2 linked regions of the Homo sapiens genome follow. The protein of the gene in region 2 interacts with the protein of the main gene of each other region in a biochemical or structural test. Each region holds a gene or a part of one and is shown on either strand. Other genes may lie near its edges.

Region 1 (3,500 bases), on a different chromosome or scaffold from region 2:
ATGGCGTGGCAGAGGGAAGGAATGTGGCATGTGGGGAGAGGAGAAGGCTGTGAGCACTCATAGGGAGAATCAGGCCTGTCTGGGAAAAGTGCTCACATGGGGCACAATGGGGCTCATAAGGATTGCTGGGAGAATGCTGCAAAGGTAAGTTGTATCAATTTCACATACAGATGACACAGTCTTATTTCTTCATTAACAACCCCCAAGACTATGACACACAAAAAAATTACATAATGTCTGTAACTTTCATCTTAGAATTTTTAGGAGCTCAGTTAGGATGCAAAGCTCATCAAAGCACCAGGAACCTTCTTAATATCACAATGCTTGAATAACCTAAATGTGCCATCATGCACTTCAGCTCATGTACCAGGATGCTGAAAAGTGAACCTAAAAGACAGCTCATTCTGTTTTTTACAAGCAAAAGGAAGCTTACAGAAACTGGATGACTTTTTCAGTTTCCAAATTACTGTGTAGTGTTGCCTCTATTTGAAACCAGGTCTTTGATCTTAAATTCACTATGCTTGTAAGTACTTAAACATATAAAGTGTGTGTACTACCTACATAAATGAACTATTTCCCCCTTTTGCAACATTTGGAAAGATCAATTTTGCAATATGGGAGGAAGTAATAAACAGTTATAAAAAATAGTATATTGCTAGGCGCGGTGGCTCACGCCTGTAATCCCAGCACTTTGGGAGGCCGAGGCAGGCGGATCACGAGGTCAGGAGATCGAGACCATCCTAACACAGTGAAACCCCGTCTCTACTAAAAATACAAAAAATTAGCCAGGCGTGGTGGTGGGTGCCTGTAATCCCAGCTACTCAGGAGGCTGAGGCAGGAGAATGGCGTGAATCCGGGAGGTGGAGCTTGCAGTGAGCCGAGATCGCGCCACTGCAGTCCAGCCTGGGGGACACAGCGAGACTCCGTCTCACAAAAAAAAAAAAAAGAAAAGTTTATTATTCTTAGGCCCAGCATGGTGGCTTGCGCCTGCAATCCTAACACTTTGGGAGGCAGAGGCTGGCGCATCACTTGAGGTCAGGATTTCAAGACCAGCCTGGCCAACACGGTGAAACTCTGTCTCTACTAAAAATACAAAAATTAGCCGGAGTGGTTGTGGGCACCTGTAATCCCAGCTAATAGGGAGGCTGAAGCAGGAGAATCGCTTGAACCCAGAAGCACAGGCCACAGGCTGCAGTAAGCCGAGATCAAGCCACTGCACTCCAGCCTGGGCAAGAGAGCCAGGCTCTGTCTCAAAACAAGGAAGAGAACAGTATGTTATTCGTAACAAAATAATTAATATTTTAAAGGAGATGATTGGTCAGTTACATTAATGCTGTGGGCTACAGGCACAGTAAGCCTTTTTTCAGCAGGGTTACCTCGATGAGAGCCTGGCTGGCTTCCTCACTTAGCCGCGGCATGATGGTGCTGTGCGCGTAGGCAATGTAGTCCTTTAGCACCGCCATGTCCAGGAGCTCCTCCTCTGCCTGCTCCTCGCTCTGGTAGTACAGTGCGACCAGGTGGTGAGCCAGACGCCTGTCATAGGCTTCGTCCTGAGGGTCCAGCAAGAGGAAGATCAAATCAAACCTAAGAAAACAAAGTAAAAATACTGTTTTTCCAGCACCTTGTGAGGCCGAGGCAGGTGGATCACCTGAGGTTGGTAGTTTGAGACCAGCCTGGCCAACACGGTGAAACCTTGTCTCTACTAAAAATGCAACAATTAGCCAGGAGTGGTGGTGCCTGCCTGTAATCCCAGCTACTTGGGAGGCTGAAGCAGGAGAATCGCTTGAACCTGGAAGGCGAAGGTTGCGGTGAGCCAAGTTCGCGTCACTGCACTCCAGCCTGGCCGACAGAGGGAGACTCTGTCTCAAAAAAACAAACAAAAAAACCCAAAACAACAACAAAAAAACTGTTTTCCTAGTTGAGACACCAATACACCTACAAACGACGTACTAAAGACTGCTTGAGCACCACAGATGTGCAGTCAATGTGCACCCTGTGAGCGCCATCAGGGAGAAGCATCTTTGCCTGGTGTGGAAAGGGCCTTCGTGTCCATCCACTCACCCCACTCACCCTGTGCTGTCCCTAGTCCTTAGGTCGGCCCAGGGAACGGCTGGGGACCAATCAGCTGAGTCAAAGGAAGTCTTCCCTTAGGGAAACGTTACTATAATTTTGACGATGGAAAGTTTTTTTTTTTTTTTTTTTTTTGAGACAGAGTCTCACTCTGTAGCCCAAGCTAGAGTGAAGTGGTATGATCTCAGCTCACTGCAATCTCCACTCCCCCAGGCTCAAGCAATTCTTGTGCCTCCTCAGCCTCCCGAGTAGCTGGGATTACAGGCATGCGCCGCCACGCCGGGCTAATTTTTTGTATTTTAGTAGAGATGGGGTTTCATCAAGTTGCCCAGGGTGGCCTCAAACTCCTGAGCTCAGGCGATCCACCCACCTCAGCCTCCCAAAGTGCTGGAATTACAGGTGTGAGTCACTGTACCTGGCTGACAATGGAAAGATTTGAATGAAAACACATTCAACTGTTTTTTTGGGAAAAAAAACTTCTGTCAAAAAAAAAGAAAAAAAAGCAAGTAATTAAAACCTAAAATCCATTTATGAAAAATGTCCAATATTTGTAGTGGGGCCAAGAGTGAAGATTATGTGATTGCACTTTAATAAATCTAACTTTTCAGAGCCTCATCTACTGTACGGAATTGTTCTCTGTTGACTCTCAGCAGTGGCTTTAGGACTAAGAGTAGTGAGTGACAGCCATGTGTAAACGGCGTGGGAGGTAAACATCCCAACTGCTTAAAAAACAAATGAGAACACACATCATCCTTGTCGTGAAAACTCTTGACCAACCAAATTTGAAACATCTTGATAAGAGTGAAGAGTTTCCATTAGCAGTTGCTGAAATCTTAGTAGCTCCTTTTCAATCTCACCCTGAATATTCTACAAATGAACAAAATAAAAATCTGTTTTAATACCTTGATAATAAAGTATGAGGCAGCTGGATGTTTTCAATGGTTGTTTTTTTAGGATTCCACTGAGACTCAATGGGATTTGCTGCTGCCAGGACAGAGGTGCGCGCATTGAGCTGACAGATGATCCCAGCCTATCAGAGCAAAGAGTGCAGTTAGAAGCCTCTCCCTGACGCTGGCAATTAACAAGCACCGTCTTCGCCCGGCCACCTACTAAACCCATATTCCCTCCACTGAGTTTCTATTGCCTGAGCCATGTTGCCTTTACTGACTTCAGCAGTTCACCTGGATAAGCCCTGTCCTCAGATTCATGCCAAGGACTGAGTTTAGATGAATGTGTGCTATAACCACATCTTTCTCAGGAAGCAGGCACCTTGCAAGAGCTTTAGGACAAATTCAAGGCTAGTACAGCAATAAAGACAAAACGTGACACCCTGTAGAAGACATGTTGAGATTTAGCTGAAATATGATGTGGAAAGCACTTATCAATCTCCCCAAGTTAGAACCAAGGTAGCACAGCACAGTTCCACAGAC
Region 2 (3,500 bases):
TTTTTGCAGTGGTTCTTAAACACCCATAGTTTCTTAGTCAGAATCACTTGCTTTTTCAAACTAACAAGGCTGGAGCCTTCCTAAGTATCTTGTTTTTCTGAATCATATTTTCCAAGAATAGGCTGAGTGGGCAGGCATATGTATTTCTTAAAGATTCTCAGATAATTCTGACATGCAACTCTGGTTAAGACCCACTGATCCTGGGGTTGAGCACAAGACAGCCCAGCTACTCTTGAGGTAGGCTGGCTGAAACTTTGTCTCCTGAGGTGTTCTGTATTGTATGGTAGTAAGCTGAGTCAATCCCACTTATTCCTTGGAAAGTATTAACTATAACTGAGCGTGGAAAATAAACATTAAATGGGCACTTGAGTTCAGATTGTTGGCCAGAGCAAGGCTGAGATAATTCTTATGTGCCCTATGAAGTACACTGCACATCCCAGTCTTGAAGAACTTGCGTGGCTAAGGAGATGACATCCAAGTCCAATATATGCTTACAATAATATCCCATCAGTTAAGGCCTTCTATGCATTCTGCTTCTCTGCTACCGTAAACCTACACAACCTGACAACACACATTTCCATTCTCTTCCCTAGTCCTTATTACACTGTATTAATAATTAACTGTTTACTTGTTAGTATAGCCTAAGATCATTTAAGGCAAGGACACTCTAAGTACCAAGACATAGTGCATCTGATGTTTAAAAGACAATAAAAAAGTAAAACATATTACAAAGTAAAACATGCCTTTAATAAAAGGTAAATTTATGTAATAAAAGTCAAACCATAACTAAAAGGAGTTAAGATTTTACTCCTTATTCTTATAAAATTATAAAGGTAAACTTTAAATACTGCAACAGTGTATTACTTTGTGCTTAATAAGATTAAATGATTATATGTATAGAGAGGTGATAAATTTATTTTCAAGCAACTGAAGAATTTTCTACTTAATATTAGAGAACTTTATCAAGACTGAATGTTTATTTGTAAAGAAAATTTCACAATAATTTATTAAGTGATTTGTAGGAGATAATCAAAGGCATTTTGTTTGGTTCTATAATACAAAACTGCTTACCAAAAGTTTTAGCAGCTTGGATAGTTTCTCTGGATCCCCTAATTGTCATAATTTGGGCCAAAGCAGTTAAATCATCACTTGCTTTATAAAATGGATATCGTCCACTAAGCAAAGAAAGAAATATGACACCTGCAGACCACATGTCAATTGCTGCAACAGAAGACAAATTTTAAAAATAAATTTCAAATCTATAATTTTATCATCTAAATCAATAGTCCTCAACATTTATTATGCATTAGAATCACCTTGGGAGCCTTAAAAATTTCAGATGCCCAGACCCAAAGATTTTGATTGAACAGTTCTGAAGTAGGGCTCAGGCATCAATGTTTTAAAAAAGTTCCTCAGGTGATTTTAATGTACAACCAGGACTGAGAATCCTCACTGCAAAATATGTTTTCTTTCTTGAGCAACGTGTTGGTAAATTTAAAAGGATATTTAATCACTAGGAAACACTAAGTAAACGCACATTTTATAGGATCAAAAGGAATCCAAAAATAGCTATGTGGGAAAAAATCTGAATGATCCTTGAGAATTACATACCATACTGGTCAAAGTGCTTTCATTTTAGTGAAAAGTAATGAACATTAGAAGCTCTTCTTCAGCTGACACTAGCACCAACTACTGCTATAGAAACTTTTAAAAAATTACTTTTTTATTTTTTTGTGACTGTGAAGACTTTAATTTTTCTGAGTACACAGTAGGTGTATATATTGATGGGGTATATAAGATGTTTTGATACAGGCATGCAGTGTGTAATAATCACATCCTGGAAAACAGGGTATCCATTCCCTCAAGCATTTATCCTTTGTGTTACGAACAATCCAATTATATTCTTTTCTTTTTTTCTTTTTGAGACAAGGTCTCCCTCTGTGGCCCAGACTAGAGTGCAGTGGCACAGTCTCAGCTCACTGCAATCTCTGCCTCCCAGGTTCAAGCAATTCTCATGCTTCAGCCTCTTGAGTAGCTGGGATTACAGGCATGTCACCATGCCCAGCTCTTTTTTTTTTTTTTTTTTTTTTTTTTGTATTTTTAGTAGAGACGAGGTTTTGCCACATTGGCCAGGCTGGTCTCAAGCTCCTGGGCTCAAGTGATCTGCCTGCCTCAGCCCCTCAAAGTACTCTTTTAGTTATTTTAAACTGCACAATTAAATTACTGACTATAATCCCCCTGCTGTGCTATCAAATACTAGGTCTTAATTCATTCTTTTTTTTTTTTTTTCGAGATGGGGTCTGGCTCTGTTACCCAGGCTAGAGTGTGGTAGTGTGATCTCGGCTCACTGCAACCTCCGCCTCCCAGGCTCAAGTGATCCTCCCACCTCAGCCTCCTGAGTAGCTGGGACCACAGATGCACACTACCACATCCAGCTACTTTTTTGTATTTTTGGTAGAAATAGGGTTCTACCATGTTGCCCAAGCTGGTCTCGAGTGCCTGAGCTCAAGCAATCCACCTGCCTTGGCCTCCCAAAGTGCTGGATAATTCATTCTTTATAACTATTTTTTGTACCCATCAGCTGTCCCCACATCCCCCACACCCTCCCACCACCCTTCTCAGCCTCTGGTAACCATCTTTCTGCTCTCTATGGGTTCAATTGTTTTAATTTTTAGATCCCACAAATTAGTGAGAACATGCAACTCTTGTCTTTCGGTGCCTGGCTTATTTCACCTGACATAATGATCTCCAGTTCCATCCATGTTGTTGCAAATGACAAGATCTTCTTTTTCGTGGCTGAATAGTACTTCCATTGTGTGTAAGTACCACATTTTCTTTATCCATTCATCTGTTGACGGACACTTAGGTCGCTTTCAAATTTTGGCTATTATGAATAGTGCTTCAACAAACATGGGAGTGCAGATACCTCTTCGGTACATTGATTTCCTTTCTTTTGGGTATATACCCAGCAGTGGGATTGTTGGATCATGTAGTAGCTCTATTTTTAGTTTTTTGAGGAACGTCCAAATTGTTTTCCATAGTGGTTGTACTAATTTACATTCCCACTATAGAAACTTTAATCTTCTGAATTCTGGTAGTTAAAGATTACGACTAGCTCAACTTGATGTTAAAAAGCTCTTTTTTTTTTTTCTTAAAGTTGACATCTCTCTTAATTGTTGACTTCCTAGTATCACCAGGTTATCTGCTCTCTGTTCCTTGGGCTACTGTATCACCTTTTTTTTTTTTTTTTTTTTTTTGAGACTGAGTCTCACTCTGTTGCTCAGGCTGGAGTGCAATGGTGCGATCTTGGCTCACTGTAACCTCTGCCTCCCGGGTTCAATTCTCCTGCCTCAGCCTCCCCAGTAGCTGGAACTACAGGTGTGTGCCACCATGCCCTGCTAATTTTTTGTACTTTTTAGTAGAGACGGGATTTCGCCATATTGGCCAGGCTGATCTCGAACTCCTGACCTAGTGATCTGCCTGCCTTGGCCTCCCAAAGT

The links. Proteins that work in one complex are often made in the same cells at the same time.
Region 1: of the proteins of CDC7 (region 2) and MCM4, one has a biochemical effect on the other in vitro, tested with the Homo sapiens proteins (2 studies listed by BioGRID).

What each region holds. Positions count from the first base shown.
Region 1 is NC_000008.11:47,970,941-47,974,440, reverse strand, and holds part of MCM4 (DNA replication licensing factor MCM4), read right to left. Parts: intron 3,101-3,500; coding exon 2,973-3,100; intron 1,585-2,972; coding exon 1,377-1,584; intron 1-1,376. UniProt on the Homo sapiens protein: Acts as a component of the MCM2-7 complex (MCM complex) which is the replicative helicase essential for 'once per cell cycle' DNA replication initiation and elongation in eukaryotic cells.
Region 2 is NC_000001.11:91,517,851-91,521,350, reverse strand, and holds part of CDC7 (cell division cycle 7-related protein kinase), read right to left. Parts: intron 2,819-3,500; exon of another isoform or gene 2,676-2,818; intron 1,222-2,675; coding exon 1,072-1,221; intron 1-1,071. UniProt on the Homo sapiens protein: Kinase involved in initiation of DNA replication. Phosphorylates critical substrates that regulate the G1/S phase transition and initiation of DNA replication, such as MCM proteins and CLASPIN.